Homo sapiens: one gene and its partner. The protein of the gene in region 1 purifies or fractionates together with the protein of each later gene. This does not show direct contact. Each region holds a gene or a part of one and is shown on either strand. Other genes may lie near its edges.

What was found.
Region 2: the proteins of SIK2 (region 1) and PPP2R2B purify together in Homo sapiens (co-immunoprecipitation; 2 studies listed by IntAct, with this or other methods). This does not show direct contact.

Annotation. Positions count from the first base shown.
Region 1 is NC_000011.10:111,605,447-111,612,474, reverse strand, and holds part of SIK2 (serine/threonine-protein kinase SIK2), read right to left. Parts: intron 6,139-7,028; exon of another isoform or gene 5,730-6,138; intron 1-5,729. UniProt on the Homo sapiens protein: Serine/threonine-protein kinase that plays a role in many biological processes such as fatty acid oxidation, autophagy, immune response or glucose metabolism.
Region 2 is NC_000005.10:146,644,747-146,651,774, reverse strand, and holds part of PPP2R2B (serine/threonine-protein phosphatase 2A 55 kDa regulatory subunit B beta isoform), read left to right. Parts: intron 1-1,050; coding exon 1,051-1,228; intron 1,229-7,028. UniProt on the Homo sapiens protein: The B regulatory subunit might modulate substrate selectivity and catalytic activity, and might also direct the localization of the catalytic enzyme to a particular subcellular compartment.

The sequences.
Region 1 (7,028 bases):
GAAGAGGAAACAGCAGAGTTTTCAATGATCAGCTAGCAGTCTGCCAAACTCATCCAAGTAATTTCTTAACAATGGAGCTCTCTATCAAGTACTTCCCAGAAATATGTATAATACTAACAATGGTGATGACTTTCACAACTGCACAGCATTTTTAAAGATACTTCAGCATATTTTATCTCATTTATTTCCCAATTCTGTGAAGTAAATGAAACAAGCAGTACACTCATGAGTTGAAACTGAGGTTCAAATAATGTCACATAATCAACAAAGGTCTTAAAGCTCTAATGAATTAAGGAAGAAAAACCCTAGGCCTTCTAACTCCAACTTTAATCTTTTCACTATTTCAAAGGGTCTTGTAGTAATACATTACACAGCATCTGTTGTGTGCCAGGAATTATGCCTGGGATATAAAAATGAATGAGATTTGATTCCTACCCTCAACAATTTAATAGGTATGTAAGAAGAAGATGAACACATTTTACCAACAAAAAAAAAAGTATTTGGGGATTTCCCCAAAGGTGCACTGAAAGTCCTTAATTTGCAAAAGGGTTGTGTTCCAATAGTTCCTTTTAAGGATTAGAATGAACTTAGATTTCTGGGAACTTCCTCTCTATATCCCTTCTCTTATTTAGTTCTCAACATAGTATAAGAGACAAAATCTGCATGGTAACAAGAAAGTAGGTCAAGAAAGGAACTCCACGAATGGAAAGATCCCCTTTTTTGGTGGTGTTCATCTATTCAACTCTCTAATCATTATATATACATTATCTTAAAAAAACTTTCAATAAATTTATATGACAGAAAAATGAATACTCCTTCTACTAAAGGACTGAATAAAGGTTTCCTGTATAAACTGAAGAACATTAGGACAAACTAGAATGATTACTATCAAACTAAATCCCACATAAAGTAGCAACATTGAATATTCAACTTCAAAATACTCAGGGAAATATGAATTAAAAACAAAATACCATTTTCACTTATTATATTTATAAAGATTAAAAAATAAATAACCTGGTCAGCTAAAGTTCAGTGAGATGTTTGTTTCAGATAGTTAGTAGGAATATAAAATAGATTATAATTTTTCTGGGAAGCAATTTAGTAGTCTTTATTATGAACCTTAAAAATCATCCATTCCATGTAGCTTAAGGACTCTTCTGAGAAGTTATTTGAAGGAAATAATCTGAAATGAGGACAAAGATTTATGTGTAGTTTTTTTTTTTTTTGAGACAGGGTCTCACTCTGTTGCCTGGGCTGGAGTGCACTGGCGCGATCTCAGCTCACTGCAACCTCTGCCTCCCAGGCTCAAATGATCCTCCCACCTCAGCCTCCCAAGAAGCTGGGACTACAGGTGTGCACACACACACACACACACACACACACACACATTTGGTCGAGAGTGGGTTTCACCATGTTGCCCAGGCTGGTCTCAAACTCCTAGGCTCAAGTAATCCTCTTGCCTTGGCCTCCAAAAAGTATGGGATTACTGGTGTGAGCCACCTCACCCAGCCTTATGTGTACATATAATCAATAGAGTATTAGAAAACTGAGATATCAGTGCAGTCTCAGCATAAGGTATGAGTAGAAAAAGATGACAAAAAACTGCTTTGTACTTTTCTGTGCAATTTTTCTTCAGTGAACATGTATTATTTTTCTAATAAGAAAAAACCCAGAACAATGACAGTTATTTATCATATACTAATTCTCTGAGATATATTAGTTTTCATTTTCTCATTTTCAAAATTCTTTAGAAAATGGCTATATTATTTTATGATTTAAATATTAAGAAGACCATATATACAGAAATGTTTCTAACAATGTGAAATTTTAAAAAACACTATGAAAGTAACAACTATGTAAAATACAAATTTTATACAGGAGGACAAAGAATTAAATGTAAGAGCAGAAATGTAAAAAGTGTTAAACTGATGAATAAATGGAATTTTTTCATTTTTCAAACTGTTTGTTATCTTTTTTTTTTTTTTTTTAGACAGAGTCTTGCTCTGTCACTGCTGGAGTGCAGTGGTGCGATCTCAGCTCAGTGCAACCTCTGCCTCCAGGGTTCAAAGTGATTCTCCTGCCTCAGCCTCCCAAGTAGCTGGGATTACAGGCATGCACCACCACGCCAGGCTAATTTCTGTATTTTTAGTAGAGATGGGGTTTCACCATGTTGGCCAGGCTGGTCTCAAACTCGTCACCTCAAGCAATCCACCCGCCTCGGCCCCCCAAAGTGCTGGGATTACAGGCGTGAGCTACCATGCCTGGCCTATCCTGTCTCTTTGATTTTAGAAAAACAAATTAACTTCTCATAAAAGAAATACTAATCTCATTTAAAGAAACCACATATACAAAAGTTGCTTTTGGGTTCTATAAATCCACAGATTAAAGCCAAAAAAAGTAGCTTTTGGAGATTTTATAAAGAAGTTACAAATAAGAGCTATTCTTCTAATAACAAATTACAAGGGATTAACATGTGTTTCTTGTCTTAGATAATATTTACTCCAGTCCTATTACTAATATACTAATTCTACACTGTCCTTCTGAAGTACCAAGTAACATTAGCTCTATCATACCATACATTAGACCTTTGAAATTAAAAAATAAATACAACTTTCAGCTTATACAACAAATCATTGGTGGAATTACAACCTACTAGCCTATCATTTGATTGAAAAGCAAGTGTGATTGAGTGGTCTATAATGAAAGACTTTCTGAAAGCAGTAAAAGTCAGTAGTAAAATAGAGAATTCTCTAGTTACCCTCTCAGAATAAATAAAAAGGAGACTTTTTTCCAATGTAAATTTGGCTTTTAAAATTATTCAAATAATAAATTCTCATTAGGATTTAATTTGAAGGCTGGGTATGGTGGCTTATGCCTGTAATCCCAGCACTTTGGGAGGCCAAGGTGGGAGGGCTGTTTGAGCCAAGGAGTTCAAGAACAGCTTGGGCAACATGGCAAAACCTTGTCTTTACAAAAAATTTAAAAATTAGCCAGGCATGGTGGTGTGCACCTGTAGTTCCAGCTACTTGGAAGGCTGAAGTGGGAAGATCACTTGAGCCTGGGAGGTGGAGGCTGCAGTGAGGTGTAATCTCGCAACTGTACTCCAGCCTGGGTGACAGAGTGAGACCCTGTCCCCCCCCCAAAAAAAAAATTGATTTGACTTTTATAATAGTGGGTAGGAAAAACAGATTGGGGGAAAAGGTAAATGGTCCGATAGTTATATACTCACAAAAATTAAACTGAGAATTTTTAAGATGATTAAAGAAGTGATTAAAAATAATCCCCTATCTTAAAAAGTATTTAAACAAATCAACAAAAAAGACAATGCAATTAAATGGGTCAAAGGACAAAAAAATTTATAAAAGGAATGCAAATCATCATCATATAAAACTGTACAAAGTAATTAAAGAAATGCAAATTGAAGTAACAAAATGTAAACATGTATTTGTTAATTAAAAATAAAAATAGAAAAAAATTTAAAAGTAATGAAGAATATTATTTTCTGCTATCAAGTTGGCAGAGATTTAGAAAATAATATTCCTGCAAAATATGAGTTCTTCCTGGTGAAAATTAACGGGTACTCCTTTTCTGGAGGGTAATTTGGCATCCTACACCGTAAGATAGGTAATGTACATACTCCTTGACCCAAGAATTCCATTGCTAGGCAATTACACTGAGGAAATAATTAGATACATGCACAAAGATGTATGTAGAGGGATGCCCTCTGAAACATTATTTTAGAAAGAGAGACAGGAAGATGGAAATAGACTAAATGTTCAGTAATAGGAAATTGATTAAATAAAATATGGATAGTCAAATGCACAAATACTATTTAACTATGCTTTACATAGTTTTCAAACTTACGGAAATGTTAACAACATGTTAAGTAAAAAACACAGATTATATGCATACATGACATCAATTTTATTACATACATATAAAATATATGTGAATAACTAGAAGAAGATGAACCAAATATTAACAGGCATTATCTCTGGGTCTGGAGAGTGGAAGTAAGGATGTTAATCTTCTTCTTTGGGCTTTTCAACAATGTTTACAATGAAGATGCATTGACTTCTATAACTGGGGGAAACCATATCAATACTATGTTTACTTTCAAGAAGAACTTAAAATAAATTTTAGTATTGTTTCTCAGTTTAATTCATCCAATATTCATCTCTTAATCTGTTTAAAGTATTTAAAAATTTTTTTAAAATGAAGTTTCTGATGGAATTTCCAAGTTTATCTTTCGATCTTCTAATATCTCAAAATGGATATATAGGCTATTTCTCTGTGAAGGATGGGAAAGTATTCTACACCAATGTTCTGAATAAAGAAAGTTTTATATAATTTATTTCGAAAAGATGGAGGTGGAAGGTAGAAGAGGTACTAGGTACATTAAAGCGGAAAGAACGATATCCTAATGAATTCTGGAACCCATTTGCCTCCAAGGAAATGAATCTGCCATCAGCAGTGGGTCATAAATCAAATGTCATCATGTGAATCCAAGAAGATAGGCCAGTTTCAGTTATTTCCAAATAATTGTTTTCTTAATTGACTGGTACTGAGATAGTATTTCCCAGAGGGTTTAAAATCAGAACACATTAAACTCTGTTAAAGTTAAAATTTCTACAGAATATAAACATTTACACAACTCTTATTTTGCATGTTTGTTCCCACTCCCAAAAAAGAGCAGATCATTTTGAACAATAGTTAGCAGAATACTTTGACAAATACTATTTGTCTGGGGTGCCAAAAACTACAGAAAAATTCTATGAAAGTATATATATTCCATGACAAATACAATTTTATTTCAATACAAAATTAAAGATCATACATAAGACTAGATACAAATATTAGCGATTGAGTTATTTGGTAACAAGTCCTTCTGTTGCACATAGTACAGTTGCTTCTTGAAATCTGGAATATTTCACAGTACAAGATTAATACCAAGACTACTGAAAGGAGTCTTAAAATTTTAAAGCAAAATAGAAAATTCAAATGTATTTTTAAAATGAGTTCTCTTCAAGAAACATCATAATCAGGGTGTAATATGCCTTTCTCTTGTTTCTGACTTTGCTATAAAAATGCAATTTTAATACCTTAACAATTCTGAAAACCTTTTAAAAATCTTACATTTTAAGGTGGTAAAGAATTAGGCCTAACTATAAAATCCCCAAAATGCACATGGAAAGCTTTTTAGCAAACAAATACAGTTTTCAAAATGTCCTTGTTATCAGTTTTGCATTCCAAGTTCTCTTAAGGGTAAGTAAGCAGCCTGACACCCACATGCCATTTTAATAAGGTCATTTTTAGAACCTCTATGAAATATCTTTATGATTCCACAGACTATACATTTACATGCTCTTTAGCTAAGCAATATGAGAGGTATATGGTGTTGAGGAAAACTCAAGTTATCTATTATAGAAAAGGTCTGAAAATAACTAGTTATGGTTATCTTTGGGGTTGTGATTTTATGGGGAATTCTTTTCATTTATTTATAAGTTTTTTTTTTTTTCTTTTTAATGAGACTGGGTCTTGCTATATTGACCAGGCTGGTCTCCAACTCCTGGCCTCAAGCAACCCATCTGCATTGGCCTCCCACTGTGCTGGGATTACAGGTGTCAGCCATCTAGCCTGGCCTCCTATTTATACTTTTAAATTTCTCAATAATAAACACGACAGATTTGGTAATAAAAATACACTACTCTTTAATGTAAAAATAATACCTTGTTACTTAGGAAATTTCCTTTTAGGACTTTACCAGCAATTTCTCCTCCCTAAAAAAAATGTAAAATGCACACTCAGTTATAGGCACAAAAATATTCACTGCGTATTATTTACTATAAACAAAAACTGAAAATTGCATAATATTCATTAATAAGGGAATTGTTAGGTAAAACGATATTCATCCACAAGGTAGAACACCATGCAGCTAACAAAAATGTTTTTATAAAGTTATATATAATAAACAAAACGCCTAGGTTATAATATTAAGTAGAAAAAAGAACATAATTTATATATATGTACCATGTGCTTTCATCTATGGAAAAAATGCATTTAAATAAAAAGACTAGTGCCATAATGTTAAGAATGGGTTATTCCCATTAGTGGAGGAATTATATGTATACTTTTTTGTTCACTATACTCTTATTTTTTATATTATAATAAGAGACTACTTCTTTATTTATTTTTCTTTCTTTTGTCCTGAAAGCAACAAGAAAGAAACTGTTTCTTAAATAGAATACAAAAACATTTAAGGATACAATTGGCTTTTCTAGAATTTTACTTAAGAGACAAAAAACTAGCTATACCACTAACTAGAAGGAAAAAGTTATTTCCTAATACTGTATAGTATTGATAAAATAAACTACTCAAGGACACTCACTGAATAGCAAACAAGCAACCACTATTGCCTCAAAGTTTAACAGCTGACATGCTATTATTCTTTTCCCATTATGCTAATTTTATAAAATTAGCATCTCTAATTCATAAACCACAAACTAATACTACAAAGCCTTTGCAAAGCGTATTAGGAAGCTGGATTCTACCACCACCTGTCTTCCCCTTTGGATGCAAAATTCACATCGAGATCTAACACAATACCACTTCAGATGATGATGTAATTATATTTCATAAACAATGTTAAACTGTTTGATAGATTCGACCAAAACGAAGATCTCTTTTGTCCACTATTTTTTTCCTAAAAGGGAAACAGACTTGAATCTCCCAAGTTCTGTAGAAATACATCATTTGTGAGTGATATAGAACAAGAGACAGAGAAGAACCAGTTAAAAATAAAAGGGTCCTAATTGCTCATTACATAGATGATTAAGCCCTAAAATTTGCCTCAGAGTCAAACTTGGGAAAAAAGACCTCTAAGTTTTAAAACACACAAACTTGTATCGATGTTAAAGCATAGTATATAAAGAAACTTTTATCGTCAATAAGTATAATTGTGATATTTTGCTGATATTATTTTTATACCATATTCATTGTTCCACTATAACTACTGTAGTATGTTCTGC
Region 2 (7,028 bases), on another chromosome or scaffold:
TACCACCTGGTATCAAATCAGTCGGGGCTCAGTTGCAAGAAATGATTTGCTTGAAAAGAAAATAGCTTTGGTTATTTTATTATCTTGTTTCTATTAAGTGACCACACCTGTGTTGTGGGGTTTTGTCTGTCTTGGGTGTTTTTTTAGTTTGTTCCCTCTCAGGCATTAGTGTTCTTATTCTCTTTCTTTGTAGCCAGTTCACCCAGAACTCAAAGGAGGAAGAGTGATAGGTCTTTGTTCACATTTGCCAGAAAGACGGTCATGTGTGGGAAACTATTTAGTTGCCGATTCTCTGATCCACCAGAAAGAAATCATTTAATCATGTATTCTTACTCATTCAACAAATACTTACTGAGAAGTATTTATGTATCAGTAAGGTGACCATATCATTAATGTTCAAACTGGGACAGTTTTGCATGTAAAAGTGGACACTACCTGGTTCGCACTCTAAGACAAATATAAACCAAGATTTTCTCAGTCAGATGTCATTGGGTTCCCTATATATTAGTGGCTGAATTTGGACGATTAGAGTCTTGGGTGATGCTAAAGTTTCCCAAAATGCCCTTAAGGATTAAGGACAAAGCCAGGAAGGGGTATAGCTTCCAAAGCCATGAGATGAAAAGACATAAAAGATAAATTTAGATTAAAGTTGAACTAGACATTTCTAAAATTTTCCCACAACTCCCTTTTTTAAATAGATTTCATGTTTAAAAAAAAAATAGAACAATGTCTCTGGAAGGTAATGACTCCACAATGGAAGCCAAGTTCCCCTGAGATGAGGCTACCTGGAGGGGCTTAGAAAAATGTTTAGAATTTATAAAGAATGAAATTTCCCACCAGGGCTAAGTGATGGTGATATCTTTTGAAAGAGGAGGAACAGAATGGAACAAGAACAGTGTGTGATTCGTTATTAGCCTCTTCTTTCTCTAACTTGGAGTTTCTTCAATGTGGCTATTATTTTGTGTGTGATAATAAATGATATTAGCATGCACACTCTTTTCCTATGGAAGATCTTTGGTTCTGAAGTGATTTGTTTCTCTTGCATCCCAGGTGCCTGTCCTGAGACCCATGGACCTGATGGTGGAGGCCACCCCACGAAGAGTATTTGCCAACGCACACACATATCACATCAACTCCATATCTGTCAACAGCGACTATGAAACCTACATGTCCGCTGATGACCTGAGGATTAACCTATGGAACTTTGAAATAACCAATCAAAGTTTTAGTATCCTTTCTTTGTGATCAAGAATCAACTGGCCTGAATTAAGAGTATTCAGGTGCGAGTGGGCTGGGAGAAAATATGGAATAGAAATGCAACACCTAGCATTTGCGGAGAACTTGCCCCTTTTAAAATACACTGGCACCTATGAGACTCTTTAATCATAACAATAAAGTTAGGGAAATATTGTTATTACAAGTGGGAGGCCAGGGCTAGCTCTGGATTGGGACTCTGAATCAATTCCTTCATACAGAGGCATTTATATGTCACGAATTAAAATTAGAGGTGATTTTATCAACAATAGGATAAGACCCTAGAGTTCAGGTTCTTTCTCTGTTAAAGGATTCATAAATCTGTATGGACAGCATGGACCACAGACATACTGGTTTCCATTGTCTCATAATAGTGAAAATAATAGTGACTGACATTTATTGAGTTCCAAGCACTTGCAATGGGAACTTTATAGTATTACATTTTTTACCTCATTGAAGTATATTATGCATATAGAAAAGTACATATTATAATTGTACAGTTTGATGAAATGTATAGTATACATATTATAATTGTACAGTTTGATAAAATGTACAGTATACATATTATAATTATACAGTTTGATGAAATTTCAGAGGTTGAACTCACCTATAACCAGCATTGACATCCAGAAACAGAACTTTGCTAACAATTCTCAAGCCCCCATCATGCCTCTTTATATTAATAATTTCTACCCCCAAGGACATATTTGATAAAACAACCCCATAATGTAAGTATCATTATCTCCTGTTTAATTAAAATATAGAAAAGTCGGCTGGCCGCAGTGGCTTATGCTTATAATCCCAGCACTTTGGGAGGCCTAGGTAGGTGGATTGCTTCAGGTCAGAGGTTTAAGACCAGCTTAGCCAACGTGGCAAGGCCCCAACTTTACTAAAAATACAAAAAAGAAATTAGCCAGGCATGGTGGCGGGCGCCTGTAGTCCCAGTTACTTGGGAGGCTGAGGCAGGAGAATCGCTTGAACTGAGGAGGCAGAGGTTGCAGTAAGCCGAGATCGTACCACTGCACTCCAGTCTGGGTGACAGAGCCAGACTCCATCTCAAAAAAATAATAAAAATAAAAAATATATAGAAAGGTAAAAAAAAAAAATGCTGAATAGCTGGGCCAGTATTTTCACCCCCACTATGTTGACCCTCTATTTCATAGTAAAAATTGGTCATTTATTGAATACCTATCATGTGCTCCATTTCTCACAAACCTAAGGCATGAGATTTATGAGGAATGGCACTGAACAACTCAGGTAACTGAACAATTGACCTAGGTATCAATATGGAGTTTTCTCTTCCACTTACCAGCCTCCCCTACTCTAACTCCATCTATCCATGAGCCCTGCCTCTAAAATATATGTCAAATCAACGCATATATCCCTATCTACCTACCTACACTAGCATAAGCCACTGTTGTCTCTCACCACTGTGACTGCAATAATCTCATCTGGTCTCCATTCATTCTTGCTCTTTTATACAGTACGAACCCTTCAACATGTAATTCAAATATCATTCCTTCCCTGATAAAAAACATTCCAGTAGCTTCCCACTAAACTCAGAATAAAATCCAAGTTATTTAACTTGGCCTATAAGATTCTGCGTGATCTGGAACCTGTCTCCATCTTTGTTATCCAGTCTTGTCACGCTTCCCTAATTCACTTCATTTCAGCCAACTAATCACTTTTCTGTTCCTAAGTAAACCTTATTCTTCCATTCTTTGCATTTGCTGTTCCCTCTTTCTAGAATATTTTGCCCACAGCATTCACATGGCTAGTTACATGTCACTTCAGGCCCCAGAGGTACTCTTTCCCATTAACTCTTAAGTAGCTACCAATAACACTATCCCTGTTATTGTCATGGTACTTACCATGATTTGAAATTTTTTTACTTATGTATTTTTGGTTTCCTCATGTTAGGATGTAAATTCTACAAGAGCAAGGGCCTTGTATGAACTATTGCTGTATTCCAGTACGTGGAACACTCTGACATACAGAAAATTATTGAACCTGTCAAGTTCGAAATAATAGTAGGTCATCAAAGTAGCGCTATCCAGTAGACAGTTCATAAAATCTAACCTGGAAATTTAATTTTAAGAGTTATAGTAAAGCTCTGAAGGTTCGTTTATAGAATAGACCCCATAATGGCTCAAACAAATAAAAGATTATTTTCGTATGAAGTCTAATATTGATGATCCCCATCAGCAGGCAGCCTCCTCCAATCAGTAATTCAGAAACTCGGGCCTCTTTCATTTGCAGCTCCCCAATGTTACCATGTTTATAGCAGGACTGTAAAAGGGGAAGGTCATGGAAGATCACAAGTGGGAGATTCCTCTGAGCCATGCCCTAAAAAAGTATGCATTCCATTGGCTAGAATTCAGCCACATGGCTAACTCTTAACTGCAAGGCAGCCTAGGAAATGTAGTCTGGCTGTGTGCCCAGGATAAAAAGACCCGGTTTTGGTACACAGCTAGCTAGTCTCCACCATGGAGAGCACTCAACCGTCTCCAAGGGCTTTCAGGGAAGGCAGCTTTAATCAGATAGTGGCAATTATGAGATATATTTGGAGACAATGAGAACTGACCATCAGGACCATGCCTGGCATATTTTGTTGATCACGGAACAGACTCCACATGCTGTCTGGGCCTGCCTACAGATTTTGCCTGGCAGTGCAGCTGCTAATAGAATGAGTGTGGGTGGTGGTTCCCTTTTTCTCTCTCCATCTATTCCAAGAGCCAGAAATCTGCTCAGGCTCAGCTGGCTGTCACTCTGAGCTTCTGCTTCCCCAGTCTAGGTGACATGTTTTCTGAATTTTGCCTCTAGGCCTTCAAGGGGGAGGGGAGTTTCTTTAGGCATTTTGGGAGACAGATGCCTTGGGGAGAATGCAAAGGGGAAATATTAACAGCGCAGTTTAGGTTATATTCTGCAGATGTGTGACAGACTGCCAGATGCTGGCATACAAATGAGACCGTGCCATTCACCCTTAAAGCAGCCATATGTAAAATAATCATTGTCATCATGAGAACGATGATAAGTGATATCTATATAGTTCTTTTCAACCAGACCGCCCTAAGCACTGAGCCTCTCATCACTGAAGTATAGCCACCTCTGGGGTAGGAAGCGGCCATCTTTCAAAACAGTCTCAGAAAAATACCAGCCACCAGGCAGGTCTCATTTCCACAATGCCCCTTATTCACAAAGGAGACAGAAGAAACATGGTTCAGGATAGAATAATTTGGGATTCCCAAAGCATAGTGTGGCTACTACTGGGGATGGTAAGCAATGTGCTTCTAAGCAATAGTGAACGTCAAAAAACATAACCATCATATCCTACAATTTCATAGATATTCAAAATCTATTTAGATTACAAAGTAAGTGTATGTAAAGCATTAAGTAAATAGTGAGACAAGGGATCTGGAGATATGGTTAGAAAACAGTCATGACTTCCTGTGACTGGCATTTGGTGTGACTTTGGCATTACGGTTGAGAACTCAGGCTTCAGAGTCCAACAAGTGATAGAGGTCTCACCCAGCCCTACCACTTTTCTGGCTGTATAAGCTTTAACATGTTCTTAATCTATCCAAGCCTCCATTTCTCATTTTGTTCATCTGTAGAAAGCAGCTCTATCACGAGAGGATTATGAAAATTAAACACACACACACACACATACGCACGCACACATTTAGGGTAGTGCCTTGCTAAGCAAATGCTCAGTAAACAGGACTAGCACAATCATGATAATTATTGAGAGAACAAGGAAACTAGAAAAGTTGAACATTAGAATGGTAGCTTTTATTCTGCTAATTTTATTATCTGGATTGTCTTTTCAATTCTAGACTCTTCCTTTGGTTCTGCAGTTGGGTGTCCTTTGCAAGATGCTGCCCCCTAGTTACTAAATGTTTTCAGGAACTCTGAGGTCTAGGGCCTTGTGTTTAGCACCAGATCAGAGCAAGGCATTTCTAAACCTCATGATAACTGGTCATGAATTCTCTCCCTTCCATCCATAGCCAGTCTGTCCTTGTCTTGTGTAACAGTTTCCCACATAAGCAGTCAAACTTTCGTCTTAATAGGCTAACTACATCAGGACTATAACAACTCATTAATAGATTAGTAGTTTTCTAGGGCAAGAGACAATAGCAATAAATGAAAATTTATATTAAAAGATGTTGCTTCTTTATGAAAACTATGGTATACCTAGAATCCTTTGAACTCTTTTTGCAGGACTAAGAATGAACTGACCTGAGTTCTTACCTTGTCCAACATGGGATCTATTAAATAGGCCCATATCGAGTAAAAATAAAGACTAGCCCTCAACGATGATAAATTGAGCACCTAGTTTGTGCCAGGCATGAAAATGGGAAAAAACAAATTTGCCGCTTTCAGAGTAATGTTCATCAAATACACTGAGTATATAATTACAAACTGAGATAATTTCTGTGAAGACAGGGAATATGGTTCTATGAATGCATTTTTAAAAATCCTGCTATAGACCAGGGAAGGCTTTGCTGAAGAATTAGTTAAGATCTGAAAGAGGAAGACTATGAACTAACTTGGCAAAGAGGTGTGGAGACATGTGTTCAGTGTGTACAGAGGTCCTGTGGCAGGAGAGAGTATGACATGTTGGAGGAATTCTAAGAAGGCCACTATTTTTGAAGCCCAGAGAGTGAAGTGGAGCATGGAGTAAGCAAGGCTGGGAAGGGTAGCAGAAGCCTCACCTTTCAGAAGTCCAGTCTCTGAATATGAGATAGAGGACTTATCTGGGAGAAGCCAGCTGGACTCTAGGGATACTTCAACTTTGACCTTGGTCCTAACAACCCTGTACAGTGGCTTCATTTTATTTGTCAACCAAGCTGAAGCCCTGTTAGAGTCGATTCCCTAATTAAGGGACCAGGTAGCCTCAACTCTTGGCTTCCAGGTTCTAGCACTCATTACTACCATGGACAGCAGCTTCCTTTTAATTCAGTGGGATTCTGCCAGGCAGGCTTCCAGGGGAACTGTGGGGTCTAGTACAAGTTTCTCCCCTGTTGCTGCTTCAGTGGCTTTCACCCTGCCCAATACATATTTAATATGACACCATGTGTCTCTTTGTCAGTCTCCTCATATTGAGCCTAGGAATTGGCAAACACTCCATGAATATTTACACATTGACTTTTTTTTAAGCTCTTAAGAGAGGAATATCCCTTGGAGTCCTCTTTGGAGATTTCCAGTGTCTCATCATCAAGCAACATGTCCTTTCAGCTAATAAGATCTTTATGTTTCATAATCATTGCTTAATATCCAAAGATTAAATTTAGACCATGGAAAGGGAAAAAGATCTCAAAGCAACTCATGTCCCTAAAAGGAAATCACACTCATCAAACAAATACGCTGTGTTCACACAAAGATATTACTATTTTCTACCTTCAGTACTGGCAGACTTTAAGTGGGATATGAAAAGCCTCAGCTGCTTTTGAATGTGGGTACTTTACCCTGGTAAACATAGATTCCACTCTTCAGCTTGGCCAATGTTTATAATACTCAGCCCTGCAGAAAAGCGTCCTACTTGGCTCTCTTATCCTCCATTGGCTTAGACAGGAATTGGGGAAATACGCATGTCAGTATTAGCAAAATCAGCAGCAAAGGGACAGAGGCATATGAAAGTCACCTCACAAAGGCAATGCATATAAACCCTATCCTTGGAGAAATATGTGCTTCCTTCAGAAGAAGGAATATTCACTCCAGTGTAAAACCACTTAAATTATCTTTTCCATTATCTTGTTTAATAATCAAAATTC